4 linked regions of the Homo sapiens genome follow. The protein of the gene in region 2 purifies or fractionates together with the protein of the main gene of each other region. This does not show direct contact. Each region holds a gene or a part of one and is shown on either strand. Other genes may lie near its edges.

The links.
Region 1: the proteins of ACP3 (region 2) and ATL3 purify together in Homo sapiens (affinity purification with mass spectrometry, with the first as the bait; one large-scale study listed by BioGRID). This does not show direct contact.
Region 3: the proteins of ACP3 (region 2) and MON2 purify together in Homo sapiens (affinity purification with mass spectrometry, with the first as the bait; one large-scale study listed by BioGRID). This does not show direct contact.
Region 4: the proteins of ACP3 (region 2) and KLK3 purify together in Homo sapiens (affinity purification with mass spectrometry, with the first as the bait; one large-scale study listed by BioGRID). This does not show direct contact.

Annotation. Positions count from the first base shown.
Region 1 is NC_000011.10:63,653,643-63,658,331, forward strand, and holds part of ATL3 (atlastin-3), read right to left. Parts: intron 1-4,689. UniProt on the Homo sapiens protein: Atlastin-3 (ATL3) is a membrane-anchored GTPase that mediates the GTP-dependent fusion of endoplasmic reticulum (ER) membranes, maintaining the continuous ER network. It facilitates the formation of three-way junctions where ER tubules intersect.
Region 2 is NC_000003.12:132,326,909-132,331,597, forward strand, and holds part of ACP3 (prostatic acid phosphatase isoform PAP precursor), read left to right. Parts: intron 1-1,358; coding exon 1,359-1,454; intron 1,455-4,689. UniProt on the Homo sapiens protein: A non-specific tyrosine phosphatase that dephosphorylates a diverse number of substrates under acidic conditions (pH 4-6) including alkyl, aryl, and acyl orthophosphate monoesters and phosphorylated proteins.
Region 3 is NC_000012.12:62,549,871-62,554,559, reverse strand, and holds part of MON2 (protein MON2 homolog), read right to left. Parts: intron 1,680-4,689; coding exon 1,386-1,679; intron 1-1,385. UniProt on the Homo sapiens protein: Plays a role in regulating membrane trafficking of cargo proteins. Together with ATP9A and DOP1B, regulates SNX3 retromer-mediated endosomal sorting of WLS away from lysosomal degradation.
Region 4 is NC_000019.10:50,853,090-50,858,448, reverse strand, and holds the start of KLK3 (prostate-specific antigen isoform 1 preproprotein), read right to left. Parts: upstream 3,535-5,359; 5' UTR 3,494-3,534; coding exon 3,448-3,493; intron 2,210-3,447; coding exon 2,050-2,209; intron 421-2,049; coding exon 134-420; intron 1-133. UniProt on the Homo sapiens protein: Hydrolyzes semenogelin-1 thus leading to the liquefaction of the seminal coagulum.

The sequences.
Region 1 (4,689 bases), on a different chromosome or scaffold from region 2:
GAATACTATTCAGCAATAAAAAGAAATGAACTATCAAGACACGAAAGAGTTGCAGAAATCTTAAAATTGCATTGCTAAGTGAAAGAGGCCAATCTGAAAAGGCTGCATATTGTATGATTCTAACTATATGACATTCTGGTAAAGGCGAAACTATGGAGACAGTAAAAAGATCAGTGGAGGAGTTTGTGGGGAGGGAAGAGAGGAACAGATAGGTACATTACAGAGAATGTTTAGGGCAGTGTGACTATTCCGTATGATACAGTAATAGTGGGCATGTGTCACTATACAGTTGTCAAAATCCAATGTACAACACAATGAGTGAGCCCTAAAGTAAACTATGTATGGGTTTTAGCTAATGACAATATATTGGTTCAAATATTAATTGTAACAAATGTATCACACTATTACAAGATGTAAACAACAGAGCAAACTGAAGGAGAATGTGGGAACTGGGCAGGTTGCAATTAATTTTCCTGAAAACCTAAAACAAAATAAAGATACAATTTGTTTTTTTTTTTTTTTTGAGACGGAGTCTTGCGCTGTGGCCAGGCTGGAGTGCAGTGGCGCGATCTCGGCTCACTGCAAGCTCCGCCTCCCAGGTTCACGCCATTCTCCTGCCTCAGCCTCCCAAATAGCTGGGACTATAGACGCCCGCCACCACGCCCAGCTAATTTTTGTATTTTTAGTAGAGACGGGGTTTCACTGTGTTAGCCAGGATGGTCTCGATCTCCTGACCTCATGATCCGCCCGCCTCAGCCTCCCACAGTGCTGGGATTACGGAGTTTCACTCTGTTGCCCAGGTTGGAGTACAATGGCACGATCTTGGCTCACTGCAACCTCCACCTCCCAGGTCCAAGCGATTCTCCTGCCTCAGCCTCCCGAGTAGCTGGGATTACAGGCATGAGCCACCATGCCCGGCTAATTTTTGTATTTTTAGTAGAGACAGGGTTTCACCACGTTGGTCAGACTCGTCTTGAACTCCTGACCTCAGATGATCCACCCACCTCGGCCTCCCAAAGTGCTGGGATTACAGGCCTAAGCCACCATGTCTGGCCTATTTTTTTTTTTTTTTTGAGACAGAGTTTTGCTCGTCACCCAGGCTGGAGTGCAATGGCGCAACCTCGGCTCACCACAACCTCCACCTCCCAGGTTCAAGCGATTCTCCTGCCTCAGCCTCCTGAGTAGCTGGGATTACAGGTGCACACCACCATACCCGGCTAATTTTTGTATTTTTAGTTGAGCAAGACTGTCTAAAAAAAAAAAAAAAAGTTGTTTTCTGTTAATTTTAATATCTGTGTTAGTTCTGAGACAGTTTTGATTGATTTTTCTCCTCATTTGGGTTATATTTTTCTGCTTCTTTTATGTCTGCAAATTTTTGATAGGATGTAGACTTGTGGATTTTCCCTTGTTGGGTGCTGGTTATTTTTGCATTCCTATAAAATATCTAGCTTTATTCTGAGATGTAGTTAAGTAATTTGGAAACTCTGGTTTTTTCTGTTCTTGCTGTTTAGATTTGTTAAATGGAACCAGAGTGTTGTTATTCCTCATTACTGAGGCAAGACTGAGTACTCTTCCTAATCCCACTGCAATCTCCGCCGCCCAGGTTCCAGCAATTCTCCTGCCTCTGCCTCCCAAGTAGCTGAGATTACAGGTGGGCGCCACCACGCCCAGCTAATGTTTGTATTTTTAGTAGCAACAGGGCATCACCATGTTGGCCAGGCTGGTCTCGAACTCCTGACCTCAGGTGATCCGCCCACCCCAGCCTCCCAAAGTGCTGGGAATACAGGCGTGAGCCACCGCATCTGGCCTTTTTTTTTTTTTTTAGATGGAGTTTAGCTCTTGTTGCCCAGGCGGAAGTGCAATGGTGCGATCTCGGCTCACTGCAACCTCCACCTCCCGGGTTCCAGCGATTCTCCCACCTCAGCCTCCCAAGTAGCTGGGATTACAGGCATGACCCATCACACCCAGCTAATTTTTTGTATTTAGTAGAGATGGGTTTTCACCATGTTGGTCAGGCTAGTCTCAAACTCCTGACTTCAGGTGATCCACCCACCTCGGCCTCCCAAAGTGTGAGATTACAGACGTGCGCCACCGCGCCGGCCAAAGAATTTTAAATGAACATCTTGTGGAACAACTTCAAGCAGCAAGAGGCACATGTAATAGGAGTCTCCAAAGGGAGTAACAGACCAAAAAAACTTGAAGAAATAATAACCTTAAAATGTCCAAATTTGATAAACATTATAAATCTGCAGATTCAAGAAGCTCAACAAAACCCACATACAAATAACATGAACTACATCAGCCTGGCGCAGTGGCTCACGCCTATAATCCCAGCACTTTGGGAGGCCAAGGCGGGCAGATCACGAGGTCAGGAGATCGAGACCATCCTGGCTAACACAGTGAAACCCCGTCTCTACTAAAAATACAAAAACTTAGCCGGGCGTGGTGGTAGGCGCCTGTAGTCCCAGCTCCTTGGGAGGCTGAGGCAGGAGAATGGCGTGAACCCGGGAGGCGGAGCTTGCAGTGAGCCGAGATCACGCCACTGCACTCCAGCCTGGGCGACACAGTGAGACTCCGTCTCAAAAAAAAAAAAAGAACTACATCAAAACACATAATAATTTGCTCAAAAACAGTGATAAAATCTTAAAAGCAACCAGACATACCCTATAAATATATATACCTATGTACCCACGAAAATAAAATTTTTTTTAATTTAAAGAAAAAAGCAACCAGACAAAAAAGACAGATTAGGTACAAAAGAACAAAAATAAGAATAACAGTGTATTTCTTGTCAGAAACAATGTCAGCAGACTGGGCACAGTGGCTCATGCTTGTAATCCCAGCACTTTGGGAAACAGAGGCAGGTGAATAACCTGAGGTCAGGAGTGCAAGACCAGCCTGACCAATATGGCGAAACCCCGTCTCTACTAAAAATACAAAAATTAGCCAGGCGTGGTGGTGCGCGCCTGTAGTCCCAGCTACTCAGAAGGCTGAGACAGGAGAATTGCTTGAACCCGGGAGGCAGAGGTTGAAGTGAGCCGAGATCGCACCACTGCACTCCAGCCTGAGCAACAGAGAGACTCCCTCTCAAAAAAAAAAAAAAGAAACAATGTCAGCAAAAAGGCAAAGGGGCAACACCTTTGAAGTACTGAGAAAAATACGTTGGCCTAGAACTCTACACTAAGAGTAAATATTTTCCAAAACAAAGGCAAAATAAAGATTTTTCAGATGTATGAAAGCTAAAAGAATTCAGTACCAACACTCCAGCACTTCAAAATATCAAAGGTGGCCAGGTGTGGTGGCTCACCCCTGTAATCCCAGCACTTTGGGAGGCTGAGACAGGCGGATCACGAGGTCAGGAGTTCCAGACCAGCCTGGCCAACATTGTGAAACCCTGTCTCTACTAAAAATACAAAAATTATCCAGGCATGGTGGTGTGCACCTGTACTCCCAGCTAATGAGGAGGCTGAGGCAGGAGAATTGCTTGAACCTGGGAGGCGGAGACTGTAGTGACCAAGATGGTGCCACTGCACTCCAGCCTGGGCAACAGAGTGAGACTACATCTCAAAAAAAAAAAAAAAAAAAGGACAAACAGGTGTGAAGGCATGCTTATAGGATTGGGCTAAAAACAGAAGTAATGGATGAAAGTCTGTATAAGAAACACATGACTTACCCCTCCCGATCCTTACAAAGAAATCTGTGGAGAGGCTCTATGCCCATAGCTTACAAGGCATAGATGAGACTGGGGCTAAGAAGCCCTACTGATAGCTAGGGGATAGTGAATGCCCACCTTCTGAACAGTGAGATCCCCAATGCCATTTCCCTGCTCAACTCCCAGAACAACAGCCAGGTCTGTGCCACCCATACAGGAGTAAGGAAGTAAAGAACAGAAGTGGTAACACATAAGAGCATCAGCCTCTGGGAAGTGAAAACTGGGTAGAGAGGAGAATAACACACATGACAGCTGCTTTCTGTTAGAAGCCTTACAGTAGTACCTGACCTTTTAAACTATATTCATGCATTTTATTTAAGAATCTTAAAAACAATCAATATGTATTAATTTTAAATCATTCACTTTGATAAAAAGTTGTTTTCACATCTTCCTTCCTTTTATTGAAAAAAAATTTCAGAAAATAACAGTTCATAAAAGACACAAACAAATCAACAGGTATATACCAGTGGAAAACACAATATGAAACTAAAAATGCCATTGGCTTTTTTTTTTTTTTTTTGAGACGGAGTCTCGTACTGTCGCCCGAGCTGGAGGACAGTGGTGTGATCTCGGCTCACTGCAACCTCTGCCTCCCGGGTTCAAGCGTTTCTCCTGCCTCAGCCTCCCAAGTAGCTGGGATTACAGGCACCCACCACCACACCCAGCTAATTTTTTGTATTTTTAGTAGAGACAGGGTTTCACTATGTTGGCCAGGCTGGTCTCAAACTCCTGACCTTGTGATCTGCCCACCCTGGCCTCCCAAAGTGTTGGTATTACAGACGTGAGCCACAGCACCCGGCTGCCACTGGCTTCTTTAATTGGTTAAGAGCACAAAATGTAACAGGCAGAAGGTCTGTTTCAAACAAATTAAAAAGCTATGTGTTTTTTAAATTCTCCCCAAGTTGGATATACACACACCCACAAAAATAGTGTGTGAAGGAAAGCTGTCATACACAGTAAGTTGTATCCTGAATTAT
Region 2 (4,689 bases):
TCAGTGTTTTCTTTCCTTATCTTTTGCTCATAAGATGGCTTTGTGTTTGGTTTGATATTATACTGAGAAAGCATATTAGAATCAAAGCACCAAGATTTCAAAAGTCCAGACTACTCTTCCCAAAGAGAAATGTGCAATCACAATAGCATGACATGGGTACAAATATAGAAGTATGTTATTAAAGTATTGAGAATTAGCTTTCCTAACCTCCCCACCTGCAATCTTTTACTCCTAATCTCCAAAAAATGAACAAATCATTGGCTCAAAATGGTCACAAATTGTATGTGGTGTTAAAAATCTATTATTTTTATTGTATATAAAATGTTGCCAGGTGTGGTGGCTCATGCCTGTAATCCCAGCACTTTGGGAGGCCAAGGCAGGTGGATCACTAGGTCAGGAGTTCAAGACCAGCCTGGCCAACATGGTGAAACCCCATCTCTACTAAAAATACAAAGATTAGCTGGGTGTGGTGGCGTGTGCCTGTAATCCCAGCTTCTCGGGAGGCTGAGGCATGAGAATCACTTGAACCTGGGAGGCAGAGGCTACAGCGAGCCAAGATGGTGCCATTGCACTCCAGCCTAGATGACAGAGCAAGACTCAGTCTCGAAAAAAAAAAAAAAGTTATACTAGTTGGGCACGGTGGCTCACACCTGTAATCCCAGCACTTTGGAAGGCCGAGGCAAGTGGACCACCTGAGGTCAGGAGTTCAAGACCAGCCTGGCCAACATGGTGAAACTCCATCTCTACTAAAAATAAAAAAATTAGCTGGGCGTGGTGGCAAGCGCCTGTAGTCCCAGCTACTCAGGCGGCTGAGGCAGGAGAATTGCTTGAACCTGGGATTCGCCACTGCACTCCAGCCTGGGCAACAGAGCAAGACACTGTTTCAAAAAAAAAAAAGTTATACCACTATTACTGTAATCATTAAGGGAAGAATACTTCTCATCAGAGTTTGTCTGCAGTAAAGTACTCTTGTCAGCTTTGTGTTCCTTTCTGTCCTATCTTATGTACAAACCGATCTCCATTATGTGTCACCTGCCTTCTAATGGCTGATCATCTTGATTCTTACATTACCTGAAACACAGTGAAAGTGTTAGTGAACTTAGAATAGTGGTTCTTAACTAGAGATTTACCCAGGGAGATTTTTTAAATCCTGATGTCCTGGCCACATCCCAGACTAATTAAATAAAAATCACTAAGGTTGAAAGCCAGTCCTCAGAATCTTTTAAAACTCCTTACGTGATTACAATGGGAAGCCAAAGTTAAAACCAATGAGTTAGAAAAAAAAAAACTATTATAATGAGCAGAAGCAAAACACCCAAGTGACGTTTGTAACATCACTCTCTCACATCTACTTTCAGGTGTTTCGGCATGGAGACCGAAGTCCCATTGACACCTTTCCCACTGACCCCATAAAGGAATCCTCATGGCCACAAGGATTTGGCCAACTCACCCAGGTTGGTTGGACTTTTAGCTAAAGATTGTTGATGAAGCTGGGTGTGGTGGCTCACGCCTGTAATCCCAGCACTTTGGGAGGCCGAGGCAGGCGGATCAACTGAGGTCAGGAGTTCGAGACCAGCCTGGCCAACGTGGTGAAACCCTCTCTCTACTAAAAATACAAAAATTAGCCAGGATTGGTGGTGGGCACCTGTAATCCCAGCTACTCGGGAGTCTGAGGTAGGAGAATCGCTTGAACCTGGGAAGTGGAGGTTGCAGTGAGCCAAGATCGCACCATTGCACTCCAGCCTGGGCAACAAGAGTAAAACTCTATCTCAAAAAAAAAAAAAAAAAAAAAAAGATTCTTGATGAGTCTCAAGGGGAAATGTATATAGAATTGTCTGTTTTGATATTTTTTGCCCTTCTGGCTTTATTTAAATGTAAGAGATGTACATGAACAAAGACTATATGAGCTTAGAAATGCTGAAGAGAGCCAAGTGGTAATCATAAGCCAGGATTTGAATTTCTTAGGCTTCACATGAGAAAGTGAAAAATAGTCTTGTAATCAATAAGCTGAATCAACAGCATTGGGAAACATGATTCCCCAAAGTGCTGATATCAGAATATGATTTCTTGTCAGCTGGATATATTGGGATTTGACCTTCCTTATAAGTGGTCAGTTAAACACAGGGAGCCCTACTTTCTGAAGAGCATCTAAGGAGAAGGTGAACTGGGGAGCAAAGCCATCTTTAGTCACTGTTCCAAAGCCCTATTCCCTTTGCTTGTAAGATTGGATGACTCTTCTGTTTGGAGCCACAAGGCCAGGTGAATTGCTTCTGTCCTGATCTGTTTAAATATATTAATTAAGAAAATGTCACAGAATCTTTAGAGTAGAATGTCTCAAAAACTAATGGGTCTTAATCCTGCCAAAACATTGGGATTATCTGGAGAGGTTTAAAAAATATATTGATGTCTGCCTGGGAGGTTCTTATTTAATTGGTCTAGTATGTGTCCTGGGCATTGGGATTTTTAGAAGCTCCTTGGTGATCAGTTCACTCTAATGTGTAGCCGAGGCTGAGAATTTCTGCCCTGACTATATTTCATAGAGGAGAAAACTCAGGCAGGCTATTTGAGACCAGCATCTTCTGTCTCCCAGGTCAAAGCTCTTCTCACCATAGCCTACCCATCTTCTGTCCCTTTGAATGAAAGAGAGGCTACAAAAATTCAGATTTGCTTGTTAATACCTATGGCTCTGTATAGACTCCTGTTCTGTTGCTATGTTTTCCCATTAAGACCAAAAGATTCTTCTAGGCTGCAGGATCTGAGTTCTTCTTCTGAAGAACCTTGATTACCCATCAGATTCTATTAGGGCAGTATTTCTCAAGCTTCCATGTGCAAATGAATCACTTGGGAATCTTGTCAAAATGTAGATTCTAATTCAGCAGGTCTGATGTGGGACCTGCGATTCTGCATGTCTAACATACTCCCAAGGATGACAATGGCACTGGTACATGGACCACATTTGAAGTGACAAGGTTCTAGGGCTCAGATTCCTACCCTTGTCTAGGTACTTTTTTTTTTTTTTTTTTTTTTGAGATGGAGTCTCACTCTGTCCCCGCAGGCTGGAGTGCAGTGGCTCGATCTCAGCTCACTGCAGCCTCTGCCTCCCAGATTCAAGCAATTCTCGTGCCTCAGCCTCCCAAGTAGCTGGAACTACAGGAGAGCACCACCACGCCTGGCTAATTTTTTATATTTTTAGTAGAGATGGGGTTTCGCCATGTTGCCAAGGCTGGTCTCAAACTCCTGAGCTCAGGCAATCCACCCGCCTTGGCCTCCCAAAGTGCTAGAATTTCAGGCCTGAGCCACCACACCCAGCCTTGTCTAGGTACTTTAAATCTACATAATCATAAGATGATGGCTGTCTAGATCAGTGTCTAGGTACTTTTAATCTGCCTTGTCTAGGTATTTTTAATCTGCATAATCATAAGATGATGGCTGTCTAGATCAGTGGTTTTTAAAGTGTGGTCCCTGGACCAGCAGCATCACCATCACGTGGGAACTTCTCAGTAATGTAAATTCTTCACGCAATACCCAGTGAACCATAAACTTTGGAATTAAAGCCCAGAAGTCTGTGTTTTATTGAGTCCTCCAGGTGATTCTGTGCATGCTAAAGTGTGAAAATCACTGCTTCATACAGACGACTATTTAAAAAGTCAGCTGTAAGAACACAATTAGACCTAAAGTACCTGCTTCTCCGCTACTCAGGTCACGGTATATTATTCCTTTCCCACCTTGTCCCTATCGTAGATGGGAAGTGATTATAGTGGTGGTCAAGCAAATGACAAGTGTGACAAGCAAATGACAAGTGGGACCAAGCAGCAGCCACCGTAACAACCTCCTCTCTGGCTCCCAAAGCTCTAGTAAGGCTCTGGATTAAAGACAAACTTGAATGCTGCATTTCCAAAGCATGGTGCTCTACTACATGCATCTGAATCACTTGGGAGACTTGTTAAAATGCAGATGTCAGGGCCCCACTCAGGAACTAATGAGCTGGAATCTCTGATGGAGATGCTGAGGAATCTGCATTTCAACATGCACCGCTGGATAATTTTGTTTCTGATGCACGGTAATGGTTGTGGACCACTGAGCTAATGCAGTGCATCTCAGTGATTACTGTCCATCAGAAGCTTGTTAAAAAATATTCTTGAGCACCACCCCCAAAGGTTCTGGTTCAGTAGGTCAAGGGTGGGGCCCAAGAATTTGATTTCTATAATGCTTTTAAGTGAAGCCAATACAGACCACACTTAGAGTAACATGTTCTAATTTTTTTATGAACCAGGAATTAATAAACTGGGCAGATAGTAAAGCATTGCCCACAGAGGTTGAAAGAGACTTTCAGATTCATCGAGTCTAATCTCATCAGATGGTTGAGCTTCTTCCACAAAATCCCCACCAAGTGGGTCTCTTTGAATGCTCTACCAACAAGGATCCCACTACATCAGAGATGAACCATTTACTTAAATCAGATCAATCACCCAACTATCAACTAAGCACTTACTATGTGCAAGTCTCTATGTTAAGTGCTAATGAAGATAAATGAGTTTTCTCAGGGAGTCAGGGAACTGTAACTAAAGAGTACAGCTCTTTTGTTTTCACTTAAATATGTGTCATTATTGTGGAACTATTAAACCACACCATTGTTCATTCTACACACATAATGAAAAAAAAAATCAACAAATTTTTATGATAGTGTGA
Region 3 (4,689 bases), on a different chromosome or scaffold from region 2:
TCAGGCCGCTGCACTCAAGCCTGGGTGACAGAGCAAGACCCTATCTTTCACTCACAAAAAAAGACCAACTGTAGCCTATGAATAATTTCTGTGTTTCTCAAAGTGTGGTCTCTGAACTAACCAGCAGCATCAAGCTTCACCCAGGAACTTGATAGAAATTCAAATTCTCAGGACTCACTCCAGGCCAAAATAATCAGAAACTCAAGTTCAGGGAGGGCTGACAATAGTGGCTCAAAAATCTGTGCTTTAACAAGTCTTTAAGGTGATTCTGTTATTCTCTAATGTTTAAGAGACTGAAGTAGAATAGTCTGGAAATCAATTACAGAAAATAAGACAATGCAAGGTGTGTGAGAAAAAAATCATTAAGAATTAGGCAGCAAGAAGATAAAAAATGAAGTTGCTTGAAAGGAAAATTAGAATCAGAAAAGTATTAGATTAAAAACAAACTGTATGGGAGAATTAAGCATGTTTGTGATCTGAGGAGGAACTATGGGATGGAACTGAAATACAAGACAGAAGGAAAGAGGGCTTTTACTATAATAGATATGGGGTTTCACCATATTGGCCAGGTTGGTCTTGAACCCCTGACCTCAGGTGATCCTGCTGCCTCAGCCTCCTAAAGTACTGGGATTACAGGTGTCAGTCACCATGCCCAGCCCATTAATTTTTTAAGAAGACATTTTGGGGTCTATTAATTTGAAAAACTCACAAAAGCAAGTGAAAGGATTATAAACAGAATTTTATTATAATGGAACAGATGGAACAAAAAAGATGAGACTTTTAGCAAAGAGGGAATGATCACTAATAAACTGCTGATTTTATTAGAAAGTTTCAAAAGAAGAAAAAAATGAAATTGTAATTTAATGAATAAACATTACATGTACAATATACCATTTGGAGGTTACTTTTGTTTGGTGAGTCTACAAATAAACTTCATTGCTATTGATATTCATCTGTTAATAAAATTCTCTTTTGATTATATTTAAATTACATATCTATAAGTAGACCTCAAAAGTAAAACAAACAAAAACCCCAAAAGCTTTCTACTCTATGGTAAGGGATTGATTACCCTTTGTTGTTTAGTAACTCCTGGTTTTTACCATTTGGGAAAACTGGGGGAAAAAAAGGAGACAGAAAGGCAAAGGCAGAAATCACGAGAGATATAATAATAAGAGATGAAGACAGAAACAGAGATAAGGCTGTTAATATTTAATTTGCTCTTTATGAGGTACAATTTACAATATGACACAGTTATTTCCTGTTTTGTCAAATACACAAATGCATGGAAATTCTTTAAAAATTAAAAGAAATAAGTTTAACTGAAAAAGTATTAATATATAAGCATGACTCATTAAAAGCTGATAGTCCAATCTATTTTACAATACCTTCCAGATAACAGTGTGCCAGGTTGAATGCTGTAATAAAGTTCCATGCGCACCAATTGTAGAAAACAGAGTTTGCCCTGCACTCTTCCTGACAGCAGGACGGGGATCCACACATAGTTCACCCAATTTTGCATAAAGACATAACCACAAGCAATCAAATGGCGGTGCAGGGTGGAATGGCCGATTTAAAACAACTCCTTTCTCTTCTGCCTGCTTTTGCTGTGCTGCCTCTTCCTTATTTAGTTCTTTTTCAATAGTTTCCCCTCTTTGGAAAAAATAATCTGAAATATTCCACTAAAAAGCAAAGTAGAAAAATATTAGTTCATCCAAGGTTTTGTTTTAAACACATAAATATGCAACATGTGGCTGTTTTACCTTTCAGAGTAAAACTTTAAAAACATTACTTCAAAAATCTCTTTCCTAGTAGAATAGATTCAATGAAAACATCTCTTCTTCTGTCAGTGTCTCTACATTATTTCAGGAGAAAGTGGGGAAACAATCTTGAGCTAACTTTTTTTTTTTTACTTTTTTATTATAAAAAATGTCAAGAACATACAAAAAACCAAGAATAGTATAAGGAACTTGAACATATTGATGTATCTACCACCTAAATATAACAACTGTTAACTATAAAAAAAAACTATAATATCATTATCACCCTAACAATGTTAACAATTCCTTAATATTGTTTAATAAGTTTGTAATTTCATACACGAGCAATTACTGTTTCCAAACATATCTTATATTAATGATAATTATGCCAATGGTTAAAATGTAGAGAATCCAGTACTGTGAACATAAATGTAAAATAAAGGAGGTGCTATCCAGCAGTAATTTAAGCAATGTTGCACTAGCCACCCACTTGCAATCATATATGCAACATGCTTACATTTTTTCCCATGTAAAAATGGGAAAAATAATAGTAATAGTAAAATACAGTTGTCCCTCGGTATCCGTGGGGGATTGGTTTCAGGACCTCCCACTGCATACCCAAATCCACAAATCCTCAAGTCTGTTATATAAAATGGTGTAGTATTTGAATATAATCTACACACATCCTCCTGTATACTTTGAATAATACTAGGTAACTTTTAATACCTAACATAAGGTAAATGCTATGTAACTAGTTATACTGTATTTAGGTAATATTGACAAGAAAGCCTGTACATGTTCAGTACAGATACAACTATCTTGTTTTAAAAAAAAATTTTCTATTTATAGTTGGTTGAATCTACAGATGCAGAAGCCACAAATATTAAGAGCTGAACGTAGGAAGAGATGAATGTAGTAACTTATCTAGCTTGTGAGGAAAATTTAAAGTTCAAATTTATAAAACTTCTGAGTTTTAATATACATTTAAAAGATTCTAAATAATTGCCTTAAAATATATGTTGAAAACAATTCTGTGCATGTTTATTTCATGTAATGTTAACAATTCTCTAAGATTTCATTACAGAGATGCCTTGTTTTATTGCACTTCTCTTTGTTGTGCTTCACAGATAATTGTAATTTTTATAAATTGCAATTTATAAAGGTTTGTGGCAACCCTGCATTGAACAAGTCTGTTGGTACCGTTTTTTTCCAGCAGCATGTGATCACTTTGTGTCTCTGTGCCACATTTTAGTAATACTTGTAATATTTCAAACTTTTTAATTATTACTATGTCTGTTATGGTGATCTATGATCCGTGATCTTTGATGTGACTATTGCAACTATTTTGGGGTGCATGAGCCGCACCTATGTAAGATGGCAAACTTAATGTGAGTTTTCTGACTGTTTCATCGTCAGGTTGTTTCCTCATCTTTTTACTTCTTCTCAGGCCTCCCTATTTCTTGAGATACAACAACAGTGAAATTAGGCCAATTAATAACCCTACAATGACCTGTAAGTGTTCAAGTAAAAGGAAGAGTCGCATTTGTCTCACTTTCAATCAAAAGCTAGAAATAATTAAGCTTAGTGAGGAAGGCATGTCGAAAATCAAGACAGGCCAAAACCTGGGCCTCTTGTGCCAGTGAGCCAAGTTGTGAATGCACAGGATAAGTTCTTGAAGGAAACGAAAAGTGCTACTCCAAAGAACAAACAAACTATAAGAAAGTACATCATGGCGGGCGCCTATAATTCCAGCTACATGGGAGGCTGAGGCAGGAGAATCACTTGAACCCAGGAGGCAGAGGTTGCAGTGAGCCAAGATCATGCCACTGCACTTCAGCCTGGGTAACAAGCGCAAGACTCCGTCTCAGAAAAAAAAAAAAAAAAAAAAAAAAAGAAAGAAAGAAGAAAGTACAGCAGGCTTATTGATGGTATCAACAAACTTTCAGCTGTCTGGATAGAAGGTCAAACCAGCTACAAGATTCCCTTAAGCCAACGCCTAATCCAGAGAAAGACCCTAATTCTCCTCAATTCTATAAAAGCTGAGCAAGGTGAGGAAGCTGCAGAAGAAAAGTCTGAAGCTAGCAGGGGCTAGTTCATGAGGTTTAAGAAAAGACGTTATCACCATAACCTACAAGTACAAGGTGAAGCAGCAAGTGCTGATGTAGAACCTGTAGCAAGTTATCCAGATCTAGCTAAGATCACCGATGAAGGTGGCTACACTGACCAACAGATTTTCAATGTAGACAAAACAGCCTTTTTATTATTATCATTTTTTTTTACAGAGACAAGGTCTGGGTCTGTTGCCAAGGCTGGAGTGCAGTGCTGTGATCATAGCTCACTGCAGCCTCCAATTCCTGGGCTCAAGCAATCCTCCCATCCCAGCCTCCCATGTAGCTGAGACTACAGGTGTGCACCACCATACACAGCTAATTTTTAGTAGAGATGGGAGTCTCATTTTATTGCCCAGCCTGGTCTCAAACTCCTGGCCTCAGCAATCCTCCCACCTCAGCCTCCCAAAGTGCTGGGATTACAGGCATCAGCTACCATGCCCAGCCTGAAACAGCCTTGTACTTGAAGATGTCATGTAGGACTTTCATGGCTAAAGATAAAAAGTCAATGCTTGGCTTCAAGGCTTCAAAGTACAAGCTGATTTTCTTGTCAGGGGCTAATGTAATTGGTTCACATAAAAGTCAACTGAAGATTTCCCTTGTATATACTATTGTTTACTAAACCCTTTCATGACAAACCCTGTAAAACCCAAACTTCAGCTCAATGTATGAAAATTATTTCAAACATTTTGTTATTAATATTTAAGTGATGTTATTTAATCCTTCACCCAGACGTAAGTTTGAAATTTAAAAGCCATATAAACAATTTGCAAAGAGCTAAAAGTATATTTGCTTAGCATTCACTCCCAACTGAATAACAATGA
Region 4 (5,359 bases), on a different chromosome or scaffold from region 2:
GGCAAAAACACTGTTGTGGGCTGGACCCCACCTGGTTCCTTGGCCCTCCTCCCTCAGACCTAGGAGTCCTGTCCCCTCCTCCCTCAGACCCAGGCATCTGGGCTCCCGGCTGCACCATCTGGCCCAGGCGTACACTCCTCTGGTTCAATGCTGCCCCAGCCTGAGGCGTAGCAGGTGGTCCCCAGTGCTGGCTCCTGGGTGGGCAGGTCCATGACCTTCACAGCATCCGTGAGCTCGGCAGGCTCTGACAGGCGGAGCAGCATGAGGTCGTGGCTGGAGTCATCACCTGGCCTGAGGAATCGATTCTTCAGGAGGCTCATATCGTAGAGCGGGTGTGGGAAGCTGTGGCTGACCTGAAATACCTGGCCTGTGTCTTCAGGATGAAACAGGCTGTGCCGACCCAGCAAGATCACGCTTTTGCTGGGGAGGAAGCAGACGCAGGAATGAGGAGCGAGGATGATAAGGAAAGAGAGAAGGGACAGAGGAGCAAGGAGGAGGCTCCAAAAGAGAAAAAGAAACAGTGAGAAAAACACAGGGTTGGGGAAGACACAGTTCAGGCCAAAAATACAGACAACGAGTTGGGAAACAGCAGTGTGAGAGGGTGAAGGGCAGATACAGAAACTGAGAGAAACCAAGGGAAAAAGGAAGAGGGTAAAAGGACAGAGAGAATGAAAGGGCAGAGGGGAGAACAGTGACAAACAAGGTGAGCCGAAAATACACAGGATGAGAAAGAAAAGACAGAAACATAGAGAAACAGACATGGGCCAGAGAAAGAGAGAGAGAAGAACAAAACCAGGCAGAAAGTGAGAAACAGATGAATGAGAAAGGGAAGCAGGAAGTCAAAGGAAGAATGAGAACCAAGTAGAGAGGAATCCGGGGGATGATAGAGTGTGGGAGAGAAAAGGGAGAGAGACTTTGGAGCTGAGTGGGGACCGCTGGGGAGGGGAGGCCTCAGAGTGGCTCAGCTGTAGATGCGGCTTTGGCGTGGGTTTCCAAGTGGGTAGGTAGCCTGGCCTGCAGGCCCAAGGTTGTATCCTCCACTTCGCTCCCCAGGGTCCTTTCCCCCATACCCTGTTTTCCTTCCCCCTTCTCCTTCCTCCTCCCTCAATTGCCCCTCCCAGCTCCAGCTGGAACCAGCCCTTCTCTGTGTCTCCCAAGAGTGGAGGGATGTCCTGGAGAAGGAATGGAGTGAGAGGGGCCCTCTCATACCCTCATACCCACACACATCAGGGATAAAACACTTCCTTTTCTTTTCTTTTCTTTTCTTTTTTTTTTTTTTTTTTTTTGAGGCGGAGTCTCACTCTGTCACCCAGGCTGGAGTGCAGTGGCACGGTCTCGGCTCACTGCAACCTCCACCTCCCAGGTTCAAGCAATTCTCCTCCCTCAGCCTCCTGAGTAGCTGGGACTACAGGCATGCGCCACCACGCCTGGCTAATTTTTTGTATTTTTAGTAGAGATGGGGTTTCACCAGTTGGCCAGGCTGGTCTCGAACTCCTGACCTCAGGTGATCTACCTGCCTTGGCCTCCCAAAGTGCTGGGATTACAGGTGTGAGCCACCGCGCCCAGCCAAAGCCCTTCCTTTTCTCAGGGTCCCCCCAGGCCCATCCCATGCGTGTGCTCAGTAGGGAGAAGGCACAGGTGAGACAGAGACCGAGAGACAGAGCCTGGCAGAGAGATACAGGGTGAGACACACTGGCTAGAGAGGGACCAGAGAAGGACAGAGAGAGGGGGAGATATGGAGACTGAAGACAGAGAAGAGAGGGAGAGAGAGAACAAAATAGTCACACGGAGAGACACAACCGAAGCCAGTTACCAAGAGACATAATGAAAGCGACACAAAGAGACATAGAGGAACACAGATGGAGACCCAGGCAGCCATGGGGAGGGTGGTCCAGCCCCAACCCTGCCTCCCCATGTGACCTGAACCAGAACTTTCCCTCTCTCCCCCAGTCCCAAGGCTGGCCTTAGAGGTTATCCTGGGGAAAATGCCCAGCTGTTATTCCTCTGGGACACAGACACCTGCTCCCCAGACCCCAGGCCCCTACTCACTTCCTGATGCAGTGGGCAGCTGTGAGGACCCACTGGGGGTGCACCAGAACACCGCCGCAGACTGCCCTGCCACGAGAGGCCACAAGCACCTGCCAGGGTTGGGAATGCTTCTCGCACTCCCAGCCTCCCACAATCCGAGACAGGATGAGGGGTGCAGCACCTGCAGAGGGGGTGCTAGATCAGGGGAATCAGGGTTGACAGGAGGAACTGGGGGACTCGGATAGGAGATGGATTTAGGATGTGGGTTTGAAAAGACACGGGGGCAGAGAACCAAGGCTGGGAGTCCTGGGACATGGGCAGGGGGAGCTGGGAAAGGCTGGGAATTCTGTCAATCTTCCCTAGGTTTGCAGGTTGGTGGCTGGTGCTGGTGGAGAGGCTTCATGCTCTGGGAGCAGAGTTGAACCCAGGGATCAGGGTAGGAGACACAAGACAGCGCCCAGACCATATCTTGAGTCTGGGGATTGGGTCCTTTGTGGTGATTTGGGGTCTTGGACTGGGAGAAGGGAAACTTGGTACAAGTTGTGGATTCTGAGGGGATAAGCGGTGCTAGGAACCAGGGATAAGTGCCTTATGGCGAGGTTCAGTTGCTGGAAGAGGAAGGTTTTGGAAAGTTTAGGAAGTCCCAGGTTGAGAAAACAGTTCTGGTCTGAGTTGGTTTTGTTTTATTTGTTTTTCTTTTTGTTTTTAGGTTTTGAAAAGGATGCAGATTTGGGGAATCAGAGAGCTGGCAGTTGTGGCTGGGGATGCTCATGTTTTTCCTAAGGAAAATGTGGGCCACTGAATGAAGAGTCTGGGGCTAAGAGTCAGGGAATGAGGAGTTCTCAGAGTCCCATTGCCAGACTGAGGGACCCATTTGTTGTCTCAGGCCAGATAGCCTGGCTAGGAAGAAGGAGGTGTCTGGTTGGCATCTGGGTATCCTAGGGCAAGATTGGGAGGCCAAGCATCAAGGTCTCTGGGATAGGGTTGGGCACTCACAGCTGAATGGGAAAAGTCAGTAGACTGTGATAGGATTGAGGGGCTCAGGAGGTGGACCAGTGATACGGTCCAAGGAACCAATGGCATTGAGAGAGGTCCTTGGAGGTTTTGAGCCCCACAAAGAGAAACACGGAGATGCCCAGGAACTTCCCCTTTAGTAAAGCAGCTGGGAGCAGGGAGCTGGCTGGGCAATGGGGAGAAAGTTCTGGGGTAAGTGGGAGGGAGCGGGGACCTGGTGTGGGAGTGAGGACTGTTGCAATATGGAGGGGCTGGGGGTATGGGCTTGGAGTGGGGCTGGGAGAGACAGAAAAGAGCCCAGCTCCCTGTCTGGGCTGGGGTGCTGGGTTGGGGGGGAAAGAGCCTCAGCTTGACAGTCAGGGCTGGCTCCCTCTCCTGCATCCCCCCAACCATGGCCCCTCTCACCAATCCACGTCACGGACAGGGTGAGGAAGACAACCGGGACCCACATGGTGACACAGCTCTCCGGGTGCAGGTGGTAAGCTTGGGGCTGGGGAGCCTCCCCCAGGAGCCCTATAAAACCTTCATTCCCCAGGACTCCGCCCCTGCCCTGCTGGCACCCAGAGGCTGACCAAGGCCCTCCCCATGCTGCTGGAGGCTGGACAACCCCCTCCCACACCCAGAGCTGTGGAAGGGGAGGGAGAGCTAGCACTTGCTGTTCTGCAATTACTAGATCACCCTGGATGCACCAGGCCCTGTAGCTCATGGAGACTTCATCTAGGGGACAAAGGCAGAGGAGACACGCCCAGGATGAAACAGAAACAGGGGGTGGGTACGATCCCCGATTCTTCATACAAAGCCTCACGTGCCTAGATCCTTTGCACTCCAAGACCCAGTGTGCCCTAAGACACCAGCACTCAGGAGATTGTGAGACTCCCTGATCCCTGCACCACTCTGAGACCAGAAACTAGAACTTTTATTCCTCATGCTCCTGAAATAGATGTCTTGGCATTTAGTACATTCTTTTCCTTGCACTCCCAACCCAGAATCCAGCTCCACAGATACATTGCTACTGTCATCATAAAAAGATCTTGTGGTCCACAGATCCTCTAGCCCAGAAATATGAGTCTCCCAAAGTTCCCTAGCATTTCAAAATCCAACGTGCAGCAAACAATGTGGAATTCCAATAACCCCCCACTCCTTGTTCTCCAGACCTGTGCACTCTATCTGTGCAACAGAGATGCCTGCTGACCTGCCCTCCCAGGTCAGAATCATCCTCATGCAAAATCCAATGCCCCTTCTCCAACAAAATATTTAGCCTTTAGGAGCCAGGTTTATGTACCTCAAGATTAAACGACAGGTCAGTCATGGTGGCTCACGCCTGTAATCCCAACACTTTCCGAGGCCAAGGTAGGAGGATCACTTGAAGCCAGGAGTTCAAGGCCAACCAGAGAAACAAAGCAAGATCCATCTCTACAAAAAAAAAAAAAAAATTTTTTTTTTTTGAGACAGAGTCTCACTCTGTCACCCAGGCTGGAGTGCAGTGGCGCAATCTCGGCTCATTGCAACCTCTGCCTTCTGGGTTCAAGTGATTCTCCTGCCTCAGCCTCCTCAGTAGCTGGGATTACAGGTGCCGTGTGCCACCACGCCCGGCTAATTTTTCTATTTTTTTTTTTTTTAGTAGAGACAGAGTTTCACCATGTTGGTCAGGCTGGTCTCAAACTCCTGACCTCGTGATCCACCCATCTCAGCCTCCCATGGTGTTGGGATTACAGGCGTGAGCCACTGTGCCCGGCCCCCCAAAAAATTTAAAAATTATCTGGATATGGTGGTGGACTACTGTAGTCTTAGCTATTGGGAGACCGAAGCAGGAGAATCTCTTAAGGCCAGGAGTTCAAGGCTACAGTGAGCTGTGATCACGCCATTGAACTCCAGCCTGGGAAATAGAATGAGACTGAAACCTCGATTTAAAAAAAAAAAAAAAAAGATTAAGGTGGCATGCAAAATCACAATTTGTAGTCTCAGAAGAGAATCGGGAACTCTTAAGAGCCCTGGTACCTCCACTGTTAACTCCGTAAGATTTCATCAATTTCCAAAAAGTTGGTTATTTCAGCTGTTCAATAAAACCAGAGTAGCTCACTTGATCCAGCCCGAGCTGTGTCTCAAGAATTTGACAAAAGTGGCTGGGCGCGGTGGCTGACGCCTGTAATCCCAGCACTTTGGGAGGCTGAGGCAGGTGGATCACCAGGTCAGGAGTTCGAGGCCAGCCTGGCAAACATTGGTGAAACCCCATCTCTACTAAAAATACAAAAATTAGCTGGGCATGGTGCTGCATGCCTGTAATCCCAGCAACTCAGGAGGCTGAGGCAGGAGAATC